7 linked regions of the Homo sapiens genome follow. The protein of the gene in region 2 purifies or fractionates together with the protein of the main gene of each other region. This does not show direct contact. Each region holds a gene or a part of one and is shown on either strand. Other genes may lie near its edges. The genes, in order: CTCF, ZNF346, YBX2, ZNF512, YTHDC2, BRIX1 and ELAVL2.

Region 1 (3,500 bases), on a different chromosome or scaffold from region 2:
TTAAACCAGGGAAGTGGTGGTTGCAGTGAGCCGAGATCGCGCCACTCTACTCCAGCCTGGGTGACAGAGTGAAACTCCGTCTCTCACACAAAGCACACAAGCACACATACACACAAAGAAGTCTCAGAGTTGGGCCAGGTGTGGTGGCTCACACCTGTAATCCTAGCATATTGGGAGGCTGAGGTGGGTGGATTGCTTGAGTCCAGGAGTACGAGACCAGCCTGGGCAACATAGTGAAACCCTGTCTCTACCAAAAGCTAAAAAAAAAAATTAGCTGGTCATCGTGGCATGTGCCTGTGGTCCTAGCTACCAGGGAGGCTGAGGTGGGAGGATTCCTTGAGCCTGGTCGATGCTGCAGTGAGCCAAGACTGAGCCACCGAACTCCAGCCTGGGCAACAGAGCAAGACAGTCTCCAGTAAAAAACAAAAACAAAAACAAAAACCTTGGAGTTAAGGCCAGTGAGAGAAAAAAAGGTTAAAATAAGAGAAAGTTTAAAGAAGTAAGAGGAAGAAGAAAACCAACAGGATTTAGTGTCACAGAGGCCAAGGGAAGAAAGTGTTTCAAAGGAAGAGGGTACTGTCAACGATGAAGAACACTGCTAACAGATCAAGTCATCTCTTAGGAAGAAGAGTGGAAAGGAGTCTTCACTACATTCAGAGAGTGGGGTCATTCATGACCTTAAGCAACAGTCATTATACCAGAGTGATGGGGAATAAGCCAGACAAGAGGGAAAGATGAGGGGGAGAAGACTGTGAGGGATGTTAACTCTTCATAAAGGCTGGCTGGGAAGGAGAGAAGAGTTAAACCTAGAGGGTGAAGACATACATATATATAAAAATACATATATATATGAATACATATATATATACACACATATATACACACACACACATATATATACACACACATACACACACACACACACACACACACACACACACACACACACACACATATATAATTTTTTTTTTTTTTTTTGAGACAGTGTCTCACTCTCTTGCCCAGGCTGGAGTGCCGTGGCGCGATCTCCGCTCACTGCAACCTCCCCCTCCCGGATTGAAGCAATTCTCCTGCCTCAGCCTCCCAAGTACCTGGGACTACAGGCATGTGCCACCACACCCGGCTAATTTTTGTATTTTTAGTAGAGATGGGGTTTCACTGTGTTAGCCAGGATGGTCTTCATCTCCTGACCTTGTGATCCGCCCATCTCAGCCTCCCAAAGTGCTGGGATTAGAGGCGTGAGCCACCGTGCCCGGCTATATTTTTATTTATTTTAAGAGACGGGGTCTTGCTATATCACACAGGTTGGTCTAGAACTCCTGGCCCATCCTCCTGAATAGCTGAAACTACAGGTGTGAGCCACTGTGTCTGGCTAAGATTCTTTTTTTTTTTTGAGATGGGGTCTCTCTGTCACCCAAGCTGGAGTGCAGTGGCACGATCTCGGCTCGTTGCAACCTCTACCTCTTAAGCTCAAGTGATCCTCCCACCACAGCCTCCTGAGTAGCTGGAACCAAGGGTGCACCTCACCACAACCGTTTTGTATTTTTGGTAGAGATGGAGTTTTGCCATGTTGCCCAGGCTGCTCCGGAACTCCTAAGCTCAAATGATCCACCCACCTTGGCCTCCCAAAGTGCTGGGATTACAGGCGTGAGCCACTGCGCCTGGCCCTTTGTCTTTATTTTTTAAGTAGGAAGAGAAGTCATTTACTGAGACCAAGAGGGGAGAGAAAAAAGAAGGAAAATTAGAGGTTATAAGAAAATAGGAGTAGGGGATCTGGTGTAGCAGCTCTCGCCTGTAATCCCAACACTTTGGGAGGCCAATGAGGGCAGATCACTTGAGGTCAGGAGTTCGAGAGCAGCCTGGCCAACATGGTGAAACCCTGTCTCTACTAAAAATACAAAAATTAGCCATGGGCGGGCACCTGTAGTCCCAGCCACTTGGGAGGCTGAGGCAGGAGAAGAGCTTGAACCCAGGAGGCGGAGGTTGCAGTGAACAGAGATCAGGCCACTGCACTCTGGCCTGGGTGACAAGTGCAAAACTTTGTCACAAAAAAAAGCAAGTGAGGGCTGGGCGCGGTGGCTCATGTCTGTAATCCCAGCACTTTGGGAGGCCGAGGTAGGCAGATCACCTGAGGTCAGGAGTTCAAGACCAGCCTGGCCAACATGGTGAAACCCCATCTCTACTAAAAAATACAAAAAAAAAAAAAAAAAAAAATTTAGCCGGGCATGGTGGTATGCGCCTATAATCTCAGCTACTCAGGAGGCTGAGGCAGGAGAATCACTTGAACCTGGGAGGCACAGGTGGCAGTGAGCTGAGTTCATGCCATCATACTCCAGCCTGGGTGACGAGAGGAAAACTCCATCTCAAAAAAAAAAAAAAAAAAAGTAAGAGTAGGTTGCCCAACTCTATATAAGCACCAAACACTGTGGAATGAATTCGCTCACTCATAAAGAACTGGAGCACACCTGACAAGAACAAACAGCTGGAACAGCTAGGAGCAGTGAGGGCCCAGCTACATTTGGGATCATGAATTTATGTATTTACGGTACTACAAGTTGTATCAACTGAGGTGATATCCCACTAAACTTAAAGAGAGCTAATTATTGGGAGTAGATATGAGGTAAGGGAGAGGATGGCTCTCACTTTTTACTCGTTACCTTTTTTTTTTTTGAGACAGAGTCGCGCTCTGTCACCCAGGCTGGAGTGCGGTGGCGTGATCTCTGCTCACTGCAAGCTCCACCTCCCAGGTTCACGCCATTCTCCTGCCTCAGCCTCCCGAGTAGCTGGGACTACAGGCGCCCACCACCATGCCCAGTTAATTTTTTGTATTTTTAGTAGAGACAGGGTTTCACCATGTTAGCCAGAATGGTCTCGATCGCCTGACCTCGTGATCCACCCGCGTTGGCCTCCCAAAGTGCTGGGATTACAGGTGTGAGCTGCCGCGCCCGGCCTACACTAAATATTATTAATAAACTCCGGCTGCATGTAAACTCTAGTTTAACTATGCACAGAAATACAGTTACCACTAAACCAATAAAACAGTCCCATTACCTAGAGAAAGTACAGACGTTCTCAAAAAAATACAATAGAATGACCTGAGTTTGAATCACACTATGTTACTTTCCTATTTGGGGAAGGAAGGCTACTAATTAAAGGTGTACTCTGTCTCCTCCCATCACAGCTCCCATTAATTTATAGATGAGTTTTACTCAGGACAGAATCTTGTGGCCTGACTACAGTAAGAAAAGGAAGAAATAGAAAAAAAAAAAAAAAAAAAGCAGCTAAGCAATGGCTTTTACTAAACTAAGTGACAGGCCATTCCTATACATAAAATGTTATGAGAGTCAGAAGGTGAAGTTATTTTTGATCCCCATATTTCGAAATATAAATCCTTCAAAATATTTTTTTCACTTCTCACTAGTTAATCTACTTACCCAAATCACTTTTTCGGGCTATGACTGTGTCACAGTGGGGACAGTGAAATTTGGCCACATTTTCTG
Region 2 (4,122 bases):
CACCCAGCCTCCCATTGCGTTCTACTTGTTGATTATGATTAGGCTAGGAAACCATGTATTTCAAGACTACATAAAGGGATCCCAGCATCTCTCTCAGAAAGCCTGATCTCTGAATAGGGTGCAAATATGTAAAATAACTTGCCCAGGGTCATAGAGTTTATCTTGCCTTTCTGAATTATAAATTGTGAGAAAAGGGCCAGGTGTGGTGGCTCATACCTGTAATCCTGGTACTTTGGGAGCCTGAGGTGGGAGGATCACTTGAGACCAGGAATTTGAGACCAGCCTGGGCAACAAAGCGAGACCCTGTCTCTACGAAAAATTTTTTAAAAAATCAGCCAGGCGGCTGGGCGCAGTGGCTCACACTTGTAATCCCAGCACTTTGGGAGGCTGAGGCAGGCAGATCACTTGAGATCAGAGGTTTGAGACCAGCCTGGCCAACCTGGTGAAACCCTATCTCTACTAAAAATACAAAAATTAGCTGGGTGTGGTGGCGCGTGCCTGTAGTCCCAGCTACTTCAGAGGCTGAGGCAGGGGAATCGCCTGAACCCAGGAGGTGGAGGTTGCAGTGAGCTGAGATCGTGCCACTGCACTCCAGTTAGCCAGGCGTGGTGGTGTGTGCCTGTAGTCCTAGCTACTTGGGAGGTTGAAGTGGGAGGATCACTTGAGCTTGGGAGGTTGAGGCTGCAGTGAGCCGTGACTGCACCACTGCACTCCAGCCTGGGTAACAGAGCCAGGTCCTGTCTCACAAATAGACAGATAGAGAAATAGAAAGGAGGGAAACCAGGGATAAATAAATAAATAATAAGGGAAACCAGGGGATGAGTCCAGTAAATTTTGAGAAGAGATAAACAAGGACCTTCCTGACCTGTGGCTACTATAATAGGAGGTAGCAGTCTATAGAGTAAACTCTTATTTATTGAGCATCTACTAGGAATTGAAATTTTACCTCACAATACCCTTAAGAAGTAGGCATTATCTCTACTTTATGGGGGAAGTTCACAGAGGTTAAGTGACTTGGCCAAACTCACCCGATCAGTAAGACACACAGCCAGCTTTGAGCCCTAGTCTGCTTAACTTCTCTTCCCATGATGAGATGGTACTCCTGAGGGATTGGGGGTTGCTTCAGCATAATGCTCATATTATTTCTGAGCCAAAAAGCACATGTGATCACCTCTCAATCACAGCAGACATTTGGAAAGGTGTTCCTTCTGCTTATTTATGCAAAACATTCAAGTGCTGAACTTAGTTCTTTTCCTTGGCCCTCAAGAAAGCAAGCAGCCTGGCTTCTTTCCATTTTCTCTTGTCTTGCTCTAACAAACCACTAGGCGGTAATATGTAATACCAGCTCCATTACTGAGTCCCTACTATGTGCCAGGCTCTGAATTGGGTGCTTTTTATAAATCTGCCCTCAATTTTAGTTCTAAAAAATCCTGAAAGGTAGTTGATATTACCATCCTCATTTTTATAGAGGAAGAAATCAAGGCTTTGTGAAGTAATAGACTTGCCCGAGTCACACAACAGGGCCAGGATTTGAAGCCAAGACAGTCTGACTTGTTCACCACACCAACCTGCTGGCTGGCTTCATCATGAAGCAAGTGGGCTCAATATGGCAGCTGTATTACCTGATCTGAGTCTAGCTTCTTCGTTTCCCCCTTTAATGTCTCCATTCCATGGATTGCTAGGTATCTCTTCACTTTGTTGGCATGTTTTTTGCTCTGCAAAAACCCAGGAGAAAGATCAAAGATAGCCAAATGCTACTTCATACTTAAGGCACTCAAAAACACTTATGAGATTTTCATCTGATTCATCCTCACAAAAAGTTTTGAGGAGGAGGTGAGGGAAGTTTGAGTTCCTGCTCTGTGCAAGGCATTTTACAGCTACCAAATTTAATCTTCACAATCTATGAGAAAATTATGACCATTTCTATTTTATGGATGAGGAAACTACATCTAAAAATGATGAAGTTTCTTGCTCAAGATGAGTAGCAGAGTTTTGATTTAAAGTCAGATCTATTTAAAGCCAAAGCTCATACTTTATGCTATGCCAAGCTGCAAGGGAAGATACACATATAATGATCCTGATTTGGATGGGGGAGATGAGACTCAAGGAGATTAAGTCAATCTTCAAGTCACAAGCCAACATGCATGGAGGCAACATCTGGGTGGCTAAGCAGCAATTACACTTCACCATGCAAGCCAGAGAGAATTAGTGGTTTGGCACCAGGTCTGAAAAGAAACGCAGTTCTAAAAGTATGATGGCATACCTGGTAATGTGCCAGCTTCTGGGACTCAGAAATAAGCAAGGCGCAGCAAACCTTACACTGGGTGTTGGTGAAGAGACATTGGTTCTTCTGGATCATGTGCTCCACTATAGAGGGGAAAACAAGAAATCATTGAGTTGACAAACACTACCTCAACAGCACTGCCTTTGAACCCTGCCTCAAACACAGGCACTGAATGATGGGATGCCATACTAGGACACTGGCAGACCTCAGCCAGCCTTTCCTACTGCCACCGTGACTCATGCTGTGTTCTCACACCACCTACACTATTACTTATTTTATAATTTTATGTATGCCAACTTTCTTTACTTAGGAACTTCTTTTAAAAAGGAATCTTTAGATCATAAACTTAAGCAGATACCAATAAAAATAAATATGATAAAAATGAGGCTTGGAGCATTCCCCAGGAAGAAGAGAACAGCAACTGTGCTGAGAGGTTTTAAGATATGGTAGCACCCAACTGAAACTTCTTCCCAGATAGAATCAGGAGGACTGAAAGACTCGAAAAAGGAATACTTTTCTCATTGTTCTTGATCTGACTTTGAAACATTTAAAATCACATAACAGGGTGGGGCGTGGTGGCTCACGCCTGTAATCCTAGCACTTTGGGAGGCCGAGGTGGGCAGATCACCTGAGATCAGGAGTTCGAGACCAGCCTGGCCAACATGGTGAAACCCTGTCTCTACTAAAAATACAAAAATTAGCCAGGTGTGGTGGCAGGCACCTATAATCCCAGCTACTCGGGAGGCTGAGGCAGGAGAATTGTTTGAACCCAGGAGGCAGAGGTTGTAGTGAGCTGAGGTTGTGCCACTAACTCCAACTTGGGTGACAGAGCTAGACTCTGTCTCTAAATAAATAAATAAAATAAAATCACATAACGTATTATATAAGTGCCACACTATATGAAACATGGTATTAACCTGTGCTTAAATTATTGTGCCTGGAGAACAGTCTTACCTTTTTGAGAAGAGAAGAGGAGGTAAAATCTCTCCCAAGGCATAAGTTCATTTTTGTTTGTTTTTTTTTTTTTTGAGAGGGAGTCTCGCTCTGTCACCCAGGCTGGAGTGCAGTGGCATGATGTCGGCTCACTGCAAGCTCCGCCTCCCAAGTTCACACCATTCTCCTGCCTCAGCCTCCCGAGTAGTTGGGATTACAGGCACCCACCACCACGCCCAACTAATTTTTTTGTATTTTTAGTAGAGACGGGGTTTCATCGTGTTAGCCAGGATGGTCTCGATCTCCTGACCTCGTGATCCACCCACCTTGGCCTTCCAAAGTGCTGGGATTACAGGCGTGAGCCACCGCGCCCGGCCAAGGCATGAGTTCTATCATGGCGCTGGCAATGTGAGGCAGAGGCAGAGGCAGAGTCTAAAACTGGGAGAGGAGGGCAGGCCCACATTTTTAATCTCCTGGTCTCAGCCAAAAAGTGGTCAAGGCTAGGCACAGTGGCTCACACCTGTAATCCCAGCATTTTGGGAGGCTGAGGTGGGAGGATGGGTTGAGCCCAGGAGTTTGAGACCAGCCTGGGCAAGATGGTGAGACTCTGTCTCTACATAGAAACAAACACACCAACAAACCAAAAACTAGCCGGGGGTGGTGGCACATGCCTGTGGTTCCAGCTTCATGGGAGGCTAAGGCTGAGACAGAGACAGAAGGATTGCTTGAGCTCAGGAGGTCAAGGCTATGGCAAGCCATGTTAGTGCCACTGTACTCCAGCCTGGATAACAGAGCAAGCCCCTGTCTTAAAAAAAAAAAAGTCGATGCCCTGGAAGAGGTTCTTGGTGGGGAGCTTTTAAGATGTCTCTCCTTAATCCACAAAATCTAAAGCTTACCTATGTCAG
Region 3 (4,499 bases), on a different chromosome or scaffold from region 2:
CACCGGGACCTGTTAACACTCCAGGAAGCACTGAGGCAGTTTTCAGAGGGAGAAGGTCCTTGGGTGCAGTGGTTCTCAAAGCGTGGCCCCTGCACCAGCGGCAGCAGCATCACCTGACATCCGAATTCTCAGGTCCCACCCCAGACCTGGTGAATCAATCAGAGCTGGGGCTGGGGCTCCACAATCGGTTTAACGAGCTCTCCAGGTGATTCTGATGCACGCTACAGCTTGAGAACCACTGCTTGGTGGAAAGAGCTCTCACTGGGACTGAGGTAAGAAGCACAGTGCATTCTACCCACTTTGCGACTGAAGGCTGTCCCTGCCTTTTGCTTTGGAGTTCATATTTCTTGCCTCCCTTTCTGAAATCCCTGAGGGGTAAAGCGGGGCGGGAGGGGAGGTGCGGGGAGTGCATCCTGGGGATGGTGGTAACTGCACAATCTGCTGAGGCCCTGAGTTCAGGACTTTTCCCCTGCTAAACTTTGACCACCTCCTTGCTCCACCCTCCAGCTCTAGACCCCAAGTCAAATGTTGAAAGAATGAAATTGGGTGGTGGCCCCAGCAGGGGTGACAGAGACTCCTGTCTTGCTGTCTCACTTTTCACATGGCCTTTTCCCCAATCAGACAGCTATTAAAAGAAACAACCCCAGGAAGTTTCTGCGCAGCGTTGGAGATGGGGAGACTGTGGAATTTGATGTCGTGGAAGGAGAGAAGGTTTGGGGACTGCTATGGGGTATAGAGTTGACTAGGCTTACGGGAGGGTGGCCTGGAGGTCATCACAGGCTAAGACCCTCCTGGGGCCAGCTCTGACCCGTTCTGCGGGAATGGGACTGTGTTCTCTCACCCTGATGTCCTCTTCCTTAATGCTAGGGCTAAGGGATGTCCTAAGTATGTCCCTGTCATCGGTCGGCAGTGTCTGGGTTTCTTCTCTAGTTCACCAAGCACTTCGACATCCGTTCTCCACGTGGGGCCCTGTCCTAGACTTCCCGAGTCCGCCTCTGGAGTAAAAAGGTGGATGCTGGCTGCCAGGCCTTTCTCCACCCAGTCGTATACTCAGGAGGGTGCAGTAGCAATTATTTCAAAAGGACATGTTGCTCCTTCCCAAATGGGTGCAAGCACATTCCACTGCCTCTCCAGGGAGGGTAGAAAGAAGTTAGAGGAGCTAAAGGAAAGCTGGAGAGGGGTCTTCCCCTGAAAGAAGGGGAAGCAAGTTGGGAAATGCACATTGGCTGTTGGAGCAGGTTCTCACTATTCCCTTACCACCTTCCCAGGGCGCAGAAGCCACTAATGTAACTGGGCCTGGGGGAGTACCCGTGAAGGGCAGCCGTTATGCCCCCAACCGACGTAAGTCCCGCCGATTCATCCCCCGGCCTCCCTCAGTTGCCCCACCACCCATGGTGGCAGAGATCCCCTCGGCGGGGACAGGACCTGGCAGTAAAGGGGAGCGGGCTGAAGACTCTGGGCAACGGCCCCGACGATGGTGCCCCCCACCCTTCTTCTACCGACGGCGGTTTGTGCGAGGCCCCCGGCCTCCCAACCAGCAGCAGCCTATAGAGGTGAGGGGATGCTGGAATATGGGAGCCAGTTCCCCAAGTTCAGGAGAGGAGTGGGAGTTAGGATAGAGACCATGGGTCCCCAAAGAAGGAGGAACTGAGGGTTGGGCAGAGCTGTGGATAATCTGGCTCCAGAGCAGCTGCTGTCCCCACAGCTCACCGGGGCCTTTGCATGTTCCCAGGGCACTGACAGGGTAGAACCCAAAGAGACAGCCCCATTGGAGGGGCACCAACAGCAGGGAGATGAGCGAGTCCCCCCGCCCAGATTCCGGCCCAGGTACCGAAGGTAAGACCCCCCTGCTGGGGCTTGGTCTTCCCCTTCCAGTGTTGGATCCTTGGGGCAAGGGACAGGAGGATGGAAGGGTGAAGCTCTAGGCAGAGCCTGGGCTCCTGGCGAGACAGGTGCCTTGCGGGGAGGCAGTGCTCATGGGCTGGAAGCCTGGCTCCTGGAGGTGGGGTGGGGCAGCTGGGTGAGCCCTGGGGAGGGAGTATTCCCTGGTCCCCTCAGAGCCTTGTTCCTTGCCTTAGGCCTTTCCGCCCCAGGCCACGCCAGCAGCCTACCACAGAAGGTGGGGATGGTGAGACCAAGCCCAGCCAAGGTCCCGCTGATGGTTCCCGGCCTGAGCCCCAGCGCCCACGAAACCGCCCCTACTTCCAGCGGAGACGGCAGCAGGCCCCTGGCCCCCAGCAGGCCCCTGGCCCCCGGCAGCCCGCAGCCCCTGAGGTGAGGACCTCAGATGTGGGATGAAAGAAAAGGCTGAGACCAGCTCCCTCCCCCACCTGCTCCTTTTTCTTTCCTACTCTATCCTTTGGCTCCTCCCCTCCCCTGCCCTGGCCCTGCCACCACCCTCTTCCATGCAGCCTGCTGGGTCCCCCCCTGGCAGGTGCCGCCTCCCACCAGGAAGCCCCCACAGAGGCAATCAAGCCCATGATTGCCCATGATGGCCATGCCCCCCCCAACCCATCCCCCACTTGCTGCCTGGAGCCATCCTACCAGCTTGTAGATGTGAACTGAGGGGTGTGATTGAGGTTTTAATGGGAAGGGAAAAAGTGAAAGAAGGTTGAAGTTCAGGGCCCTGAAGAACAAGTCTCAGCCCTGCGCGATGTCTCATGCCTGTAATCCCAGCACTTTGGGAGGCAGAAGCAGGCAGATCAGTTGGGGTCAGGAGTTCAAGACCAGCCTGACCAACATGGAGAAACCCCGTCTCTACTAAAGATACAAAAATTAGCCAGGCGTGGTAGCACATGCCTGTAATCCCAGCTACTTGGGAGGCTAAGGCAGGAGAATCACTTGAACTGGGAGGGGGAGTTTGCAGTGAGCCAAGATCACGCCACTGTACTCCATCCAACCTGGAGTGAGACTCTGTCTCAAAAACAAAAAGAACAAGTCTCAATTGGCCACCGCTGTTCTTTAGACCTCAGCCCCTGTCAACAGTGGGGACCCCACCACCACCATCCTGGAGTGATTCCAACTCAACTCAGAGGACACCCAGAGCTGCCATCTGGTGAGTGGCTGGTGCAGTTGGGTGGGTGGCCAGGAAGGTGAGGTACTGGGTGGCGATGACAAGTCGCTGTTGTTCACAATCCGTCCATTTCCTTTTCTCTCTCAGGTATCTGCCAGTTTTTCCAAATGACCTGTACCCTACCCAGTACCCTGCTCCCCCTTTCCCATAATTCATGACATCAAAACACCAGCTTTTCACCTTTTCCTTGAGACTCAGGAGGACCAAAGCAGCAGCCTTTTGCTTTTTCTTTTTTCTTCCCTCCCCTTATCAAGGGTTGAAGGAAGGGAGCCATCCTTACTGTTCAGAGACAGCAACTCCCTCCCGTAACTCAGGCTGAGAAGGAACCAGCCAGCTCTTACCTCCTCCTGGTTGCTTTTCTTGCCCCCACCCCAAGTTTATTTTTGTTTTCCCCCGGCCCCCTACCTCTGAAGCCATTTTATGATCTGTCATGTGCCACCTGAGCCTCCAGTAAAAACAAAAACAGGCTTTCCTGTGGTCTTGGTCTCCATCTCTTCTGTTTTGGAGAATCGCTAGTAACTCACTGTTGAAGGTGGGGAGGAGGGGATGTGGGGCCGTGGGCAGGGCCTGGCATCCTTGCTGCCATGTCTCCAGCTGTGTCCCTGGTGAAGAGTGCCCCTATCATGGGTTTCACTGCCCATCTGTGACATGGGCTGACACCTCCCTCACAGAGTGAGTATTCTGCAAATGCCAAGAGCAATGCCCGGCACTGGCAGCTACAATTTATTGAGCATTTACTATTAATAAAGCAACGAGTAGAAATGTGAGTAGGGGCATGAGCAATGGCATCCAGAAGATTCTGAGGCCTTGAGCTGAGGCAGGACAGAGGGAGGAAGAGGGGTGAAGAGTTATGGTCCCTGTCTCAGCCCATCCTCAAGTACCTCCACAATAGGATGCTTGTCTTCAGCAGTGACTTTATAGAAGTATCTATATATATACATTTAGTACAACCGACCTTTGGTTTCTTCTCTCAATCCCCTTTTCAAACGTATATAAAAATATCCAAAGGCTCCTCCCAGCCCAGTGTTTCCAGGCAGCCTTTCAAATCCCCTCTTTGCCTTAGTTGGTCAAAAGCCTGTGGATGCAGCACCCTTCCAGGAAGGGAGAGGAAGAAAGTTAGGGCTCCTTCTTGGCAGCCTTGGGAAACCATCGGGGTAGAGCCCCAAGCCTAGAGGCGGGAGCCTGCCGTCCTTCCATCTTGCCACACATGGGCACATACTTTCCTGTTCCCTCTTGCCCTGGAAGGCTGAGCCTGCAGTGAGGGAGGTGAGTCCTTTTCCCTGCAGGGGTCAAGAGAGAACTCCCTTCGCCAGGCGCGGTGGCTCACGCCTGTAATCCCAGCACTTTGGGAGGCTGAGGCAGGCAGATCACGAGGTCAGGAGATCGAGACCATTCTGGCTAACATGGTGAAACCGCGTATATACTA
Region 4 (4,122 bases), on a different chromosome or scaffold from region 2:
TCTTGCTATGTTGCCCAGGCTGGTCCAAAGCACTTTTTTTTTTTTTTTTTTTGAGACAAGGTCTCACTCTGTCACTCAGGCTGGAGTGTAGTGGCTCAAGCACAGCCTCCACCTCCCAGGCTTAAACAATCCTCCCACCTCAGCCTCCTGAGTAGCTGAGACCACAAGTGTGTGCCACGGTACCCAGCTCATTCTTTTGTGTGTGTGTGTGTGTGTGTGTGTGTGTGTGTGTGTGTGTGTGTGTGTGTAGAGACAGGGTCTCACTTTGTTGTCCAGGCTGGTATCAAACTCCTGGGCTCAAGCAATCTTCCTACCTCAGCCTCCCAAACTGCTGGGATTACAGGCATGAGCCACGGTACCCAACCAAGACACATCTTAACGAAACTATTCAGCCAGGAAGGGGAGGGGAGACATGAGGGAGTGAAGAGAGGAAAAAAAGAAAAAGAATATAAATGTATCAGCCAGGCGTGGTGGCTCACGCCTGTAATCCCAGCACTTTGGGAGGCTGAGGCAGGTGGATCACCTGAGGTCAGGAGTTCACGACCAGCTTGACCAACATGGAGAAACCCCGTCACTACTAAAAATACAAAATTAGCTGGGCATGGTGGCACATGCCTATAATCCCAGCTACTCAGTAGGCTGAAGCAGAAGAATCGCTTGCACCTGGGAGGCAGAGGTTGTGGTGAGCCAAGATCGCGCCATTTGCACTCCAGCCTGGGCAACAAGAGCGAAACTCTGTCTCAAACAAAAAAAAAAAAAAAAAAAAAAAAAAAAAAGGTAAACATGGTAAATTATATGGGTATACTTTAACTCAATAAAAAATAAACTAGGCCAGGCATGGTGGCTCACACCTGTAATCCCAGCACTTTGGGAGGCCAAGGCAGGCAGATCACTTGAGGTCAGGAGTTGGAGACCAGCCTGGCCAATATTGTGAAACCCCACCTCTACTAAAATACAAAAATTAGCTGGGTGTGGTAGCGGGTGCCTGTAGTCCCAGCTACTTGGGAGGCTGAGACAGGAGAATCACTTGAATCTGGGAGGTGGAGGATGCAGTGAGCCGAGATCATGCCACTGCACTCCAGCTGCCCTGGGCTACAGAGCGAGACTCCATCTCAAAAAAAAAATAAAAATAAATAAATAAATAAAAAAACTAAGCTGGGTGCAATGGCTCAAGCCTGTAATCCCAGCACTTTAGGAGGCTGAGGCAGGCAGATCCCTTGAGCCCAGGAATTCAAGAACAGCCTGGGCAACATGGCAAAATCCTACCTCTATTAAAAATACAAAAAATTAGCCAGGTGTGGTGGTGTGCACCTGTAGTCCCAGCTACTCAGCAGGCTGAAGTGGGAGAATCACCTGAGCCCAGGAGGATGAGGCTGCAGTGAGCAGAGGTTGCGCCACTGCATTCCAGCCTGGGCAACGGGAGTTAGGCTCTGTCTCAAAAAAATTGTTTAAATAAATAAGAAACTATTCAAAGCCAAAGATTTTGTTTTAAACTAGAAAGCTTCAGAAAAGTGACATATTACATTACAGGAAATGATTTAAATGACCATGGGTTTCTCAACAGAAACCAAGAATGCCACAAGGCAGTACAGTATCTTTAAAATCGAACCAGTGTAATGGCTCACATTTGTAATCCCAGTACTTTGGGAGGCCAAGGCAGGGGGACTGAGCCCATGAGTTCAAGACCAGCCTGGGCAACATAGCAAGACCTTGTCTCTACAAAAAATAATTTTAAGGCTGGGCGCGGTGACTCGCGCCTGTAATCCCGACACTTTGGGAGGCCGAGGTGGGCAGATCACAAGGGCAAGAGATCAAGACCATCCTGGCCAACATGGTGAAACCCCATCTCTACTAAAAATACAAAAGCTGGGCGTGGTAGCATGCGCCTGTAGTCCCAGCTACTCGGGAGGCTGAGGCAGGAGAAATGCTTGAACCCGGGAGGCGGAGGTTGCAGTGAGCCAAGATACACCACTGTGCTCCAGCCTGGTGACAGAGCGAGACTCTGTCTCAAAATAATAATAATAATAATTTTAAGAACTTAATTGTACATTTTTAAATAACTAAAAGAGTGTAATTGGATTGTCTATAACACAAAGGATAAATGCTTGAGGGGATGGATATCCCATTCCCCATGATGTGATTTCACATTGTATGCCTGTATCAAAACATCTCATGTACCACATAAATATATATCCTTACTATGTACCCACAAAAATAAAAATAAAAAAATTTTAAAGCAATTATCCAGGTGTGGTGCCATGCAACTATAGTCCCAGCTACTTGGGAGGCTAAAGTGAGAGGATCCCTTGAGCTGAGGAATTTGAGGCTTCAGTGAGCTATGACCGCACCACTGCGCTTCAGCCTTGGCAACAGAGTGAGACCCTGTCTCTAAAAAGAAAAAAGAAAAGGAAAAAGAAATATCTTTAAAATTTTGAGAGAAAAAATTTGTCAACTCAGAATTCTATATTCAGTGAAAATATCCTAAGAAATAAAACTAAGAGAATTCATTGTAAGCAGACCTGCTCCATATGAAATGCTAAAACAAATGATTCCAGCTGAAGAAAAATAATACCAGAGAGAAACTTGGATTTTTAAGAATGAAGAAAGAGCAACAGAAATGGTAAACAGGCCGGGGTAGATGGCTCACACCTCTGTAATCTCAGCTACTTGGGAGGCTGAGGTGGGAGGATCACTTCAGCCCAGCAAGCAATGAATGTGCCACCAACTCCAGCCTGGGCAACAGAGCAAGACACTGTCTCTTAAAAAAACAAGAGTAGGGGCAGACACTAAGCATTCAAATAATCCAAAAGAAGAAACACAGGAACAAAAAACAATGGATAAACAGAGAACAAAAAATAAAAGGGCAGACCTATCCAACCATATCAATAATTAATTTAAATGTTTACAGTCTAAACACTCCAGTTAAAAGTCAGCAAATGACAGAGTAAAATAAAAAGTGATACCCTACTACATGCTACCTACAAGAAGCACACTCTAAAATATAAAGACATCTATAGATTGAAAATAAACAGATGAAAAAATTGTATCATACAATCAGCAAACATAAGGCTGGAATGACTATTTTAATATCAGATAAAACAGACTTCAAGACAAAGAGTACTGCCAGAGATAAAAAGAGACACTTCATAATGACAAAAGTGTCAAATCATTGGGAAGGCATAATTACCCACTGTATGTGCCTAATAATAGAGCCTCAAAATACACAAAGCGAAAACTGACAAAATTAAAGGGAAAAATAGACAATTCCACAATCTTAGCAGAAAATTTAAGACCTCCCCCTTTCAGCAACTGATAGAACTAGATAAAAATTCAGTAAAAGACATAAATGATCTGAACTGCACTATTAGCCACCTTGCTCTAGTTAACATTTACACAACACTACATCTAACAACTGCAGGATATATATTCTTTTCAAGTGCACATTATGCATTCATTAAGCTAGATCTTACGCTGGGCCATCAACTTTAACTTTTATTAAAAGGATGAGAATTACACAGTGTATTCTCTGACCACATTGGTATCAACTTAGGAGTCAATAATAGGAAGATATCTAAAAACAAAAAACACAAAAAATCCAAATATCTGCAAATTAAATAATCTACTTCTAAATAATTCATAGGTCCAAAATGAAATCACAAATGAAATTTGAAAATATTTTGCACTGAAAAACAACAAAAATATGCATATCAACATTTGTAGGATGCAACTAAAGCAATACTTAGAAACTTAAAGCTTTAAATGCTTATACTAGAAACGATCTAAAATCAATGACTTAAGATTTCATCTTAAGATACCTTAAAAGGAAAAGCAAAGTAAACCAAAGAAAAGGTAAGGTAAGAGGAGAAACCCATGAACTAGAAAACAGACAATAGGGGAAATGTGGTTCTTTGAAATGATCACAAAATTGACAACCCTGTAGCTAGACTTAGACTGATCTACAAAAAAAGACACTACAAATAGCCAATATCACAAATGAAAAAGGGGTTACCGCAGATTATGTAGACATTAAGTAATAATATACTTTGAATAACTTTATGCTAATCAATGGAAAAATTACAATGAACAAATTTCTTTAAAAATACTACTTACCAAAACTGACAC
Region 5 (4,122 bases), about 63 Mb from region 2:
TTACACAGTAGTGTAAAAGTGTTCCTTTTTCTCTACAACCTCACCAGCATGTTGTTTTTTGACTTTTTAATAATAGCAATTCTGATCTCATTGTGGTTTTGAATTGCATTCCAGTAATGATCAGTGACGTTGAGCTTTTTTTCATATGTTTGTTGGCCACATGTACATCTTTTGAAAAGTGTCTGTTCGTGTCCTTTGCCCACTTTTTAATGGGTTGTTTTTTCTTGTAAATTTGCTTAAGTTCCTTGTATACTCTGGATATTAGACCTTTGTCAGATGGATAGATTGCAAAAATTTTCTCCCATTCTGTAGGTTGTCTGTTTCCTCTGATGATAGTTGTTTCTTTTGCTGTGCAGAAACTTTAGTTTAATTAGATCCCATTTGTCAATTTTTGCTTTTGCTGCAATTGCTTTTGGCGTTTTTATCATGAAATCTTTGCCTGTGCCTATGTCCTGAATGGTATTGCCTAGATTTTCTTCGAGGGTTTTTATGGTTTAGAGTTTTACATTTAAGTCTTTAATCCATCTTGAGTTAATTTTTGTCGAAGGTGTTAGGAAGGGGCCCAGTTTCAGTTTTCTGCATATAGCTAACCAGTTCTTTCAGCACCATTTGTTAAATAAGGAGTCCTTTCCTCATTGCTTGTTTTTGTCAGGTTTGTTAAAAATCAGACGGTTGTAAGTGTGTGGTCTTATTTCTGAGTTCTCTATTCTGTTCCATCATTCTATGTGTTTGTTCTTATACCAGTACCATGCTGTCTTGGCTACTGTAGCCCTGTAGTATAGCTTGAAGTCGGGTAGCGTGATGCCTCAGCTTTGTTCTTTTTGCTTAGGATTGTCTTGGCTATATGGTCTCTTTTGGTTCCATAAGAATTTTGAAATCGTTTCTTCTAAGTCTGTGAAGACTGTCAGTATAATGGGAATAGCATTGAATCTGTAAATTTCTCTGGGCAGTATGGCCATTTTCATGATATTGATTGTTCCTATCCATGAGCATGGAACGTTTTTCCATTTGTTTATGTCCTCTCTGATTTCTTTGAGCAGTGATACGTAGTTCTCCTTGAAGAGGTCCTTCACTTCCCTTATTAGCTGTATTCCTAGGTATTTTATTTTACTTTATTTTATTTTATTTCATTTTTTTGAGATGGAGTCTTGCTCTGTCACCCAGGCTGGAGTGCAGTGGCACAATCTCAGCTCACTGTAACCTCCGCCTCCTGGGTTCAAGCAATTCTCCTGCCTGAGACTCCTGAGTAGCTGGGATTACAGGCACGCACCACAATTCCTGGCTAATTTTTGTATTTTTACTAGAGACAGGGTCTCACCATGTTGGGCAGGGTGATCTTGAACTCCAGACCTCAAGGTGATCCATCTGCCTGCCTTGGCCTCCCAAAGTGCTGCAATTACAGGCGTGAGCTATCATGCTTGGCCTTTTCCTATGTATTTTATTTTTGTTGCAATTGTGAATGTGAATTCATTCATGATTTGGCTCTCTGCTTGCCTGTTGTTGGTATATAGGAATGCTAGCAATTTTTGCACATTGATTTTATATCCTGAGACTTTGCTGAAGTTGCTTATCAGCTTAAGAAGCTTTTGGACTGAGATAATGGGTTTTCTAGATGTAGATCATATCAACTACAAACAAAGATAATTTGACTTCCTCTTTTCCTATTTGAATACTCTTTATTTCTTTATTTTGAGATGGAGTCTCACTTTGCCGCCCAGGTTGGAGTGCAGCGGTGTGATCTCAGCTCACTGCAACCTCCGCCTTCTGGGTTCAAGCAATTCTGCTGCCTCAGCCTCCGGAGTAGCTGGGATTACAGACGTCTGCCACCATACTCCACTAATTTTTTTTGTATTTTTAGTAGATTTGGCATTTCACCATGTTGGCCAGGCAGGTCTCAAACTCCTGACTTCAAGTGATCTACCACCTCGGCCTCCCAATGTGCTGGGATTATAGGCATGAGCCACTGCACCCACCCGACGTGAATACTCTTCATTTTTTTCTCTGGCCTGATTTCCTTGGCCTGAACTTCCAATCCTATGTTGAATAAGAGTGATGAGAGAGGACATCCTTGTACTGTGACAGTTTTCAAGGAGAATGCTTCCTGCTTTTGCCCATTCAGTATGATACTGGCTGTGGGTTTGTCATAAATAGCTCTTATTATTTTGAGATATGTTCCTTTACTACCTAGTTTATTGAGTTTTTAACACGAAGACATGTTGAATTTTATTGAAGGCCTTTTCTGCATCTATTGAGATAATCATTTGGTTTTTGTCTTTAGATCTGTTTATGTGATGAATTATGTTTATTGATTTGCATATGTTGAACCAGCCTTGCATCCCAGGGATGAAGCCAACTTGATTGTGGTGGACAAGCATTTAGATGTGCTGCTGTATTTGGTTTGCCCATATTTTATTGAGAATTTTTGCACTGATATTCATCAGGGATATTGGCCTGAAGTTTTCTTTTTTGTTGTATCTCTGTCAGGCTTTGGTATCAGTATGATGCTGGTCTTACAGTATGAGTTATGGAGGAGTCCCTCCTTTTCAGTTGTTTGGAATAGTTTCAAAAGAAAGGGTATCAGCTCTTCTATGTACTTCTGGTAGAATTCAGCTGTAAATCCATCTGGTTGGGCTTTTTTGGTTGGTAGGCTCTTTATTACTGCCTCAATTTCCAAACTTGTTATTGGTCTATTCAGGGATTCAGCTTCTTTCTGGTTCAGTCTCAGGAGTATGTATGTGTCCAGGAATCTACCTCTTTCTTCTAGATTTTCTAGTTTATTTGCATAGAGGTGTTTATAGTATCCTTTGATGGTAGTTTGTATTCCCATGGGGTCAGTGGTGAGATCCCTTGTATCATTTTTATTGTGTCTATTTGATTCTTCTCTCTTTTCTTCTTTATTAATCTAGCTAGCAGTCTGTTTTATTGATTTTTAAAAAGAACCAGCTTTTTGATTTGCTGATTTTTTTGGAGGGTTTTTCCTGTCTCTATCGCCTTCACTTCTGCTCTGATATTAGTTATTTCATGTCTTCTGCTAGCTTGGGTTTGTTTTCTCTTTGTTCTCTAATTTTTTAAATTGAGATGTTAGGTGGTTAACTTGAAATCTTTCTAGCTTTCTGATGTGTTCATTTAGTGCTATGAATTTCCGTCTTAACACTACTTTAGCTGTGTCCCAGAGATTGTGGTACATTGTCTCTTTGTTCTCATTACTTTCAAATAACTTCTTGATTTCTGCCTTAATTTTGTTATTTACCCAAGAGTCATTCAGGAGCAGGTTGTTCAGTTTCCATGTAGTTGTGTGGTATTGAGTGAATGTCTTAGTCTTGAGTTCTAATTTGATTGTGCTGTGGTCTGATAGACTGTTATGATTTTACTTCTTTTACATTTACTGAGGAGTGTTTTACTTCCAGTTATGTGATCAATTTTAGAATAAATGCCATGTGGCGATGAGAAGAATGTATATTCTCTTGTTTTTGGGTAGAGAGTTCTGTAGATATCTATCAGGTCCACTTGATCCAGAGCTGAGTTCAGGTCCTGAATATCTTTGTTAATTTTCTGTCTTGATGATCTGTCTAATGTTGTCTGTGGGGTGTTAAAGTCTCCCACTATTATTGTATGGGAGTCTAAATCTCTTTGTAGGTCTCTAAGAACTTGTTTAATGAATCTGGGTGCTCCTGTATTAGCTTGCATATATATTTAGGATCATGAGTTCTTTTTGTTGAATTGAGCCCTTTACCACTGTGTAATGCCTTTCTTTGATCTTTATGGTTTAAAGTCTGTTTTATCAGAAACTAGGATTGCAACCACTGCCTTTTTCTGTTTTCCATTTGCTTGGTAAATTTTCCTCCATCCCTTTCTTTTGAGCCTATGTGTGGCTTTGCATGTGAGATGGGTCTTTTGAAGACAGCATACTCGTGGGTCTTGGCTCTTTATCCAGTTTGCCATTCTGTGCCTTTCACTTGGGACATTTACCCCATTTACCTTCAATATTACTTTTATGGTTATGTATTGTTATGTGTGAATTTGATTCTGTCATGATGCTAGCTGGTTATTTTGCAGACTTGTTTATGTGGTTGCTTCATAGTGTTACTGGTTTGTGTACTTCCGTGTGTTTTTGTAGTGGCT
Region 6 (4,122 bases), about 140 Mb from region 2:
GCCTGTAATATCCCGGCTACTCCGGAGGCTGAAGCAGGAGAATCATTTGAACCTGGGAGGTGGAGGTTGCGGCGAGCCGAGATCGTGCCATTGCACTCCAGCCTGGGCAACAAGAGCGAAACTGCATCGCAAAAAAAAAAAAAAAAAAAAGGAGGGAGGTTTCCAGTAATCAGAAGTGAGACCATTTTAGATGCTAGGCCCAAAAATATGATAGATAATTTCACCCAAGATATGGGCAGAGCATCTAGTTTACCTTGGGTAGAATACCTAAGAGGAACTTTAAAGGTTCCTTCTGTGAATAAATACATGTTTAGGCCTTTGTAGCCTATTAGCCTGGTTAGGTATTTTTGAGATAATCTGGATGATATTAATCACATATAATTACTTTAGTTCTCATTTATATTATCTACTTCATTTTCCTATACTTTGCTTCCTTTAGGTTTGTGAAATGAAGAACTGTAATAAATGCATCTATTTTGAAGCTAAGAAAAAACAGGATCTCTATATGTGGTAAGAGAATGTATTAAGATTTTGGTTAAACTCATTTAAGTGGATTTGTTCTTTGTACCTTTTATGTTATAGACTCCTAGTGTTTCATGTTAAGGGTTGAGAATGAAGCAAACTTTTGATTTCACGAAACTTGATACCTTTAAAGAAAATTAAATGTATAAATATTATAAGCATATTATTTATGGTGAATAGGTGGTAAGCATTGACTACATTTGCTAATTAGTTGAAAAAGCTTACTCCATATCTTTCAGGCTTTCAAATTCACCTCACGGACCATCTGCTAAATTCCTTGTTCAAAATAGTAAGTTGACTCAATAAATTTTTTTAGATGAGGAAATTAAAAGTAATCTTTTGAAATAGTTGTGCAAAAGTTACAACTATTTTTGTTTTTGTTGTAATTTTTCTAGTTCATACCCTCGCTGAACTGAAGATGACTGGAAACTGTTTGAAAGGTTCTCGGCCCCTTTTGTCTTTTGACCCTGTAAGTTTCTCATTCAGTGTATGAGGTCTAATTTTCTTATCTGGCATGGTTGTTTTTAGTAGATATAGTTGTGTTATTCAATTTAGTTTCACCCCCACCTTGGTTTTATGGATTATCAATTCTTTCAGGTACATTTATAATGAGGTTATAGCCAAGTTATAGAAACAAATGAGCAAACAGTTTTAAACAAGGCAGTCTACTGTTAAATAATATGCTTACCTTATTTTTATAGGCTTTTGATGAATTACCACATTATGCTTTGTTAAAAGAACTCTTAATTCAGGTAAATATCTTTAAAATTAGCTATCCAAAATATACATGATATATCTTGGAATAAGGAACTAACATACACTTTTTTAACTAGATCTTTAGTACACCACGGTATCATCCCAAAAGCCAACCATTTGTGGACCACGTGTTTACTTTCACCATTTTGGATAATAGGATATGGTTTCGGAACTTTCAGGTAAGCTTTACTTGATTTTTAATTATACCTTTTTTTTAATTGAGTTTATTTATTTATGTTTTGAGACAGAGTCTCGCTCTTGTTGCCCAGGCTGGACTGCAGTGGCACAATCTTGGCTCACTGCAACCTCCACCTCCCGGGTTCAAGCTTCTGCTCCCTCAGTCTCCTGAGTAGCTGGGATTACAAGCACCCATCATCACGCCTGGCTAATTTTTGTAGTTTTAGTAGAGACGGGGTTTCGCCATGTTGGCCAGGCTGGTCTCAAACTCCTGACCTCAGGCCATCTGCCCGCCTTGGCCTCCCAAAGTGCTGGGATTCCAGGCGTGAGCCACTACACCCGGCCTAATTTTTTTTTTTAGAGATAGAGTGTCGCAGTGTTGCCTAGGTTGGCCTTGAACCTCCTGGCCTCAAATCATTCCTCCTCAGCATCTTGAGTAGGTGGGATTGCAGTTGTGAGCCACTGTGCCTGGTCAATTTTTAGTTAAACTTTTAGATAAGGATATACAGGGTTTGCATACACAAAAAATGCAAATAATTCTTTTGTTTTAAATAGCTTCCTTTTCCCTAAAGAGATTGCTGCAAGTAACTATGTACTGTCTTATATCTTAAGTGAGCTCTACCTACTTCTATTCATGACTGTTAGTTGATACAGAGTATGGATTTCCTAATAAGCCATTATATATTTAACTTTATAGAAAGGGAATAACTTGAAGATCCATGAGATACTTGGGTTCCTAATTTGTAGAAAGTGCTGTAAAGGATACAGTAAAATAGAAGTTTCTCTCTCAAAGCTTAGAAGTTTCTCTCTCAAAGCACCTCAAAGGTTAAGACCTAGCAAAATGTAATTGCTCTAGAAGGCATTCAATGGCAGCGGTTAGATGATGAGTCACACAGTGACTCATTCAGGAGAAAAGAGGAGGTGACTCTAGAAATCTTGAAGCAGGAGTTTGGCACGATAAGTGCAGAAAGATGAAGAGGTGGAAGAGAACAGCAAGAACAAAATTTTAGACAGTATATGACATAAACTGAGCTCTTTTCTGCATATTTTATATTGGATACCTGGCATGTGAGTTGAACACATCATCCTAACCTCTGAGGGTAGACATGCCTGAACTAATAGATAACATAAATATTTGTTGTTCGGAAGTTGCCTTTTAATTCCATAATCAGTAGCTATTAAATAAATTTGACTACATATCCTTTTAATCTAACTTGAATTAGATTTATAAAAACAATTTAGGGATTGATTTAAGTTTCAAGAGTTCCCCCATAATGTGCTTTAATACATTTTGTTAATAGTGGTTACTGTTTTAAAATCCTGTTTAACCAGTTTTTCAAGGATATATGCATTGTGACAAGCAAGATGTGAACCAAAATCTAATTACTCAATTTTAAAAGAACTCACTGAAAAAACATTTTTCCATGACAACTTCCTATAAGTACTAATAGATTTCAGAAAATATTGATGATTTGCCATTTACCAAGTTTCACCCCCACCTTGATTTTATGGATTATCAATTATTTCAGGCACATTTATAATGAGGTTATAGCCAGTATACCTTTTGGGAATAACGTAACCAAACCAAAATGAAATGTTTCCTTTTTATTAAAGATCATAGAAGAAGATGCTGCTCTTGTAGAAATAGGACCTCGTTTTGTCTTAAATCTCATAAAGATTTTCCAGGGAAGTTTTGGAGGACCAACTTTATATGAAAATCCTCACTACCAGTCACCAAACATGGTAAGCGGTTGTGTCATTCAGTAGTCTTCAATGTACCAGAACCCTTTGGCCAAAATGATTCTGTGAAGTAATTGCTGTTTTATTACCTGTGAAACTGAATTTGGTTTTTGCTGCATAGAAACTTGGAAATTACTCCCTTTTTTCATGACACTGGCTGAAAGGATATATGGTTCATAACTGAAAGTCTTTGCCTTATATAAAATGTTTATTTTTATTTCAAAAGCATCTAATCTTTTTTTTTTTTTTTTAGCATCGGCGTGTCATAAGATCCATCACAGCTGCAAAATACAGAGAGAAACAGCAAGTGAAAGATGTGCAAAAACTGAGAAAGAAAGAGCCGAAGACTCTTCTTCCACATGATCCCACTGCAGATGTTTTTGTAACACCAGCTGAGGAGAAACCAATAGAAATACAGTGGGTAAAACCAGAGCCAAAAGTTGATTTGAAAGCAAGAAAGAAACGGATTTACAAAAGGCAAAGAAAAATGAAACAGAGGATGGACAGTGGGAAAACAAAATAAGTCAATGGAAACCTGATTTGTTTTTCAGTTACTTTATATTTATTTTGTATTCAATGTGTAAATACTTTTATTATCTAATACTATCTTACGTCTAATTAGTGTAGCATTTACAAGAAAGAAAAATTAAGATCTTAAAATCAGTGATTATCTTTTTCTAAATAAAATATCACCAGAATTCATCAGTTAATTTCTGATTTCTTTTTGAAGTTTGTGTTGCTAAAAATGTAGCACACTTAATGTAGCCTGTTCTCTTGGGTTGGAATTTTTGGTTTAGCAAAGCTGAAATTCAGACATTTATTAGGTCATATTATTTGTAAAAGCATTCAACACTTCAAGAGCATCGGTTGTGGATGGTAAAGTAGGAGTAGACTGGTAGAAAGGAAGGCATCTCACTGAAGTTTACT
Region 7 (4,122 bases), on a different chromosome or scaffold from region 2:
AGTGTACAGCATAGCCCCAGCAACCAGAAGTTACCTGGTCCAAAGCACCAATAATGCTGTGGTTGAGAAATTCTAATCTGTAGCTTTCTGGGGTTATCTGAATTGTTTCCAGGGCTTCAGATTTCCTTTTTTTTTTTTCTTAAAGGATTTTATTCTCATGTGTCAATTTTTAGGTCAAGCTGTTTCTGTTACTTCACTTTATAGTATGTGCACCATTAAGGGTATATAACCTATGTGACTACGTGAAGTTTCTACAAATGAGTTCCTCTCTTCCTTTTCAAAATTGTTTACAAACAGGTTGGCAGACTTTCTCTGTACAGTACCAGATAGTAAATATTTAACTTTATGGGTTATGGTCACTGTTGCATCTGTCTTGTTTTTGTTTTTAAACAACCTGTTAAAAATGTAAAAGCCATTCTTAGCTTATAGCCCATACAGCAACAGGTGGGAGGCAGTCTCCATTTGGCCTGTCGGTTGTAATTTACTGACCTCTCTGTAGTTCATAGAATGACCGTGGCTTTAGCCCAAAGAAGACACTCTATCTCACTGACAGGTGTACATATGCTAACTGTTTAAGTTTTATTCTGATCCTGGGATAACAAACCAGGAGTCATTCAAAAAATCTCTAATCTGCATGTGAGAAGAACAGTGACTTTAAGAAGTTAAGCAGAGCAGAGAGTTTTTGGTTTCATAAGCAAGTCATGCAGTTTTTATTTTCCAGGACATTTTTAAATATCCTTTTTGGCCATATGGTACACTATACCCAGAATGCTATCTAACCCCACACTGATTTTTAAAAATTATTTCCAAGTGCATATCAATTTTATTTATTTCATTCATGGGACAGAATAGTTAATTACCAAAAATATAATCACAAATATAACCTAATAAGATCAGGAGTTATGTTTTCTAGCTTAAATCTATGCATTTATTTTTTTCATTGGAATATTTGCAGTGCTGAAGAGAGTGGAGATAAAATCAGTTAAAAATAGCTCCTTTTAAAAAAATACTAAATTATGTTGCTTGAGATATGAGAAGGAAATTTGTTATGAATGCCACATTAAATTTCAACTTAAGTTGGCCTTTGCCGTGGGAGAAGAGGTGGTACTGTCAAAAGCATTGAGCCTTGTACTTCATGCTCTGCTGTGAGGAAAAGGCATTGGTATTAAAAAAAAAAAAAAAAAAAAAAAAAAAAAAAAAAAAAAAACCTTTGCCACCTTTGACTTCCCATGGTAGTGGTGATCAGACTAGTGTGGGAGATGCGTGGGGCTGCCTGATGCTTGCCTTTGTGGAGAAAGAAGTCTCACAAAGAAAGCCCTTTTTCAGCTCTGCACATAGGTTTCCTCTGTGACATCTTAAGTGAATAATATATGTATAAATATACTTTTTTAAATTGCAAACGTAGGATGAACAAGCCTGAAGGAATTTTACAGGTATTTCCTAGGCAGCTTGTCCAGTTAATTTCAGAGCTCTTTGGGGCCTTGAAAATGATCTCGAGTTTAGATAGAACAAAGTTCTTCATAATGTATTGGTTGATTTTTAACATTGTGAAGTTATAAAATGTTTGCTGTTAGTGGAAAGCTATATTAGCTACTTTTTTTTTCCAGATTGAAGCAATGATTTTGTTTGATAGTTATTAAGTAAAACAAAGTTCTTGGAATCAAGATTGAATTCTTAGGAAGATTGAGAAGACAGGATTTGGGAGAGTGCCTGATTATTGAAATGGCAAGGCTTGTAGGTGACTCAGGTGCTAGGTTGTTGATGGGTGTCAGCCCTTAGGTTTACCTAGCCTCCATCCCTGCAGGCTCTGTGCTTTTTATTTTTGGTTGAGTAAAGCTTTACAGGATGTTCTTATGGTCAAATTTAATTATCTTTTTCTGGCCCATTCTGTGTTTTTATCTTTTAGTACCATATGTTATCATTAACTTGAAAATTCTTTTTCCTTCACTCCTATAGAAAGACATTTTGGAAGAAGAGAATAAGAGATTGTCAGTTGTAAGGGAAACTTGGTTTCAGAAAATGGGAGAAATTGTTATTCTCTCTTCAGATTTTTAACTGTTGTCCCATTCACCCCATTTCTCATTCCTCCCATGATCCCTGTCCAGATAATAAAATATGAACGAGTTAGTGTGCTCAGAGATAGTGTTTGATCTAGATTGGGTGTGTTGGAAGAAATCAGATTTCAGGTTTAACCTGATGTTTGATGCTTTTCTTTAATACAGTATATTGAACCTGGTTGTCATTATCTTGATTTCCGCCCCACTCCCCCTTCTTCTTTCACCTGATAAAGAAACTTGAATTAAGGGCTTGCTTGTTTTGTTGGTATTTTGCTGTTTTCTGTAGTTCGAGTCTAAATCATCACACAGATATATTTTGTCCCTGATATTTGTGTTTTAATGCTCTTGCCTTGAGTTTTTGTCACCTTTCAGCAGACATGTAGAAAATTTCTCACTGTATTTTTATGTTCTCATAGTACCTTGGGAGTTGAGAGAGATTGAGCAATATAAGTTATATGTATTATGGTCAAGAATACTTTTAATAATCATAAAGTATGAGCCATATCTTTTATGGTCAAAAAGCTTAAAAATCCATGTAATAAGGGTTAAGTTTAAAGGTGGGTTTGTGAGGTTTATGGCTTAGTCAATCTATGAATAATCAGAGAATTGTTGTAATATGAGCACTGCTGGTCTAATACGCTTATTTAATTGACTGCAGTTTTCAAAATAGGACAAGCCTTATTTATTTGGATGGATGGTGTAATTCAAGCCCCTTAAGTATATTCTTGGGACATGATATCAGAATTAAACTTTAAGCCAAATTTTTTCATGTTCTTTTCTGTGAAACAGCTATAATTTTATTGAATATGATCTAGTGTAATGACCTGTGTGCCTGCTTCTATGAGCCTTTATGCATTTTTTAAAAAGCCTTTTAAATGAGCACTTGAGTTGCCTTTAAGGCATGACGTACTGGTTGCATTATCACAATTTCCTTTTGGAAGAAACCGGTATCAATCCCCTTGAATACTTTTCCTCTTTCTTAGAGGACAGATGATACCATCTAATTGAATAAGGCAGTAAGGCAGTAAGAAGATGATCTTGTTGTAGATAATTTCCAAGCAGTTCTCGGTTGGCGCTTTGGAGAGATTTTGATAATCATTATTTGTGGGATTCCGAGTATATTTTCTTACCCATCAATAACTTATCTTCCTATTTTTATTTCTGACTTTAATCGGGTTCACATTTCCCCTTACTTACATGTAGGCCTTCCCATAGTCCATCAGCTAATTTTTTTAGAAATTAGGCAGGTACTTTATTTTTATTTTCTACTTATGAACACCTAGCTTTAAAATAGGAATGATCTGATACATGGTTCTGTTCAAAATTTTGACAGGTTATAATTGGAGCTTTGGTCCTGTTGATAGAAAAATGTTTATACACATCTCTCTCCTATGTGCCTTTTTCATAAATTACATATGTACATGGGCGTGTGCTATTCATTAAATTATAAACTCTAATCAAACATAAAAAAGGATAAAGATGAGACAATCTGTATTAAATGTCTTGCTAATTACTATACTGGTTGGCTTCATTTTCCATGTACCTAATATCTTAATAAATGTCTTTTAAAGCAAGACCATAAAATAATTTCAGATATCTCATCTGACTTCATGTGATGCATGTTGGATTATCTTGTGTCTAACCTTATAATGTAGCTTGTACTAAGAGTAGGAGAAATAATCGGCTCTCCCTTTCCTTATTTACTTGTATTTCCCTTACTGGTACCATTCTTTACTCTGATTTACATTTGTAGTAATCTTTTTTTAAGTTACTTTTTCTTTAAATGGAGGTCATTTTAATTAAAGCAGGTTATCCAGTCTAATCCTCCATATCTGCTTGCTGTGTTATTTGTAAAATGGATTTTGTTCAGGCTAAAGAGCAGGAGAGAGTGCCACTCGCCGCCTCTCCCCTTCGATGATTGCTCAGTCTTCCCCCAGGGAGGCAGGTGATACACAGGACTGAGAAGGTACTGGGTTCAGTGCATCTATTAAATATAAGTAAAAAATACTTTATTTTAAATACATATTTATTTTATATTTTATTTTAAATATATATTTAATGGATA

The links.
Region 1: the proteins of ZNF346 (region 2) and CTCF purify together in Homo sapiens (co-immunoprecipitation; 2 studies listed by BioGRID and IntAct, with this or other methods). This does not show direct contact.
Region 3: the proteins of ZNF346 (region 2) and YBX2 purify together in Homo sapiens (co-immunoprecipitation; 2 studies listed by BioGRID and IntAct, with this or other methods). This does not show direct contact.
Region 4: the proteins of ZNF346 (region 2) and ZNF512 purify together in Homo sapiens (affinity purification with mass spectrometry; 2 studies listed by BioGRID and IntAct, with this or other methods). This does not show direct contact.
Region 5: the proteins of ZNF346 (region 2) and YTHDC2 purify together in Homo sapiens (co-immunoprecipitation; 2 studies listed by BioGRID and IntAct, with this or other methods). This does not show direct contact.
Region 6: the proteins of ZNF346 (region 2) and BRIX1 purify together in Homo sapiens (affinity purification with mass spectrometry; 2 studies listed by BioGRID and IntAct, with this or other methods). This does not show direct contact.
Region 7: the proteins of ZNF346 (region 2) and ELAVL2 purify together in Homo sapiens (affinity purification with mass spectrometry; 2 studies listed by BioGRID and IntAct, with this or other methods). This does not show direct contact.

Annotation. Positions count from the first base shown.
Region 1 is NC_000016.10:67,621,526-67,625,025, reverse strand, and holds part of CTCF (transcriptional repressor CTCF), read right to left. Parts: coding exon 3,435-3,500; intron 1-3,434.
Region 2 is NC_000005.10:177,039,371-177,043,492, reverse strand, and holds part of ZNF346 (zinc finger protein 346), read right to left. Parts: intron 2,368-4,122; coding exon 2,264-2,367; intron 1,716-2,263; coding exon 1,623-1,715; intron 1-1,622.
Region 3 is NC_000017.11:7,287,305-7,291,803, reverse strand, and holds the end of YBX2 (Y-box-binding protein 2), read left to right. Parts: intron 1-227; coding exon of another isoform or gene 228-272; intron 273-621; coding exon 622-711; intron 712-1,268; coding exon 1,269-1,553; intron 1,554-1,732; coding exon 1,733-1,836; intron 1,837-2,078; coding exon 2,079-2,274; intron 2,275-2,965; coding exon 2,966-3,016; 3' UTR 3,017-3,055; intron 3,056-3,160; 3' UTR 3,161-3,541; downstream 3,542-4,499. UniProt on the Homo sapiens protein: Major constituent of messenger ribonucleoprotein particles (mRNPs). Involved in the regulation of the stability and/or translation of germ cell mRNAs. Binds to Y-box consensus promoter element.
Region 4 is NC_000002.12:27,589,322-27,593,443, reverse strand, and holds part of ZNF512 (zinc finger protein 512), read right to left. Parts: intron 1-4,122. UniProt on the Homo sapiens protein: May be involved in transcriptional regulation.
Region 5 is NC_000005.10:113,568,978-113,573,099, forward strand, and holds part of YTHDC2 (3'-5' RNA helicase YTHDC2), read left to right. Parts: intron 1-4,122. UniProt on the Homo sapiens protein: 3'-5' RNA helicase that plays a key role in the male and female germline by promoting transition from mitotic to meiotic divisions in stem cells.
Region 6 is NC_000005.10:34,921,778-34,925,899, forward strand, and holds part of BRIX1 (ribosome biogenesis protein BRX1 homolog), read left to right. Parts: intron 1-439; coding exon 440-510; intron 511-761; coding exon 762-811; intron 812-917; coding exon 918-991; intron 992-1,223; coding exon 1,224-1,274; intron 1,275-1,355; coding exon 1,356-1,457; intron 1,458-3,069; coding exon 3,070-3,198; intron 3,199-3,448; coding exon 3,449-3,718; 3' UTR 3,719-4,122. UniProt on the Homo sapiens protein: Required for biogenesis of the 60S ribosomal subunit.
Region 7 is NC_000009.12:23,696,898-23,701,019, reverse strand, and holds part of ELAVL2 (ELAV-like protein 2), read left to right. Parts: intron 1-4,122.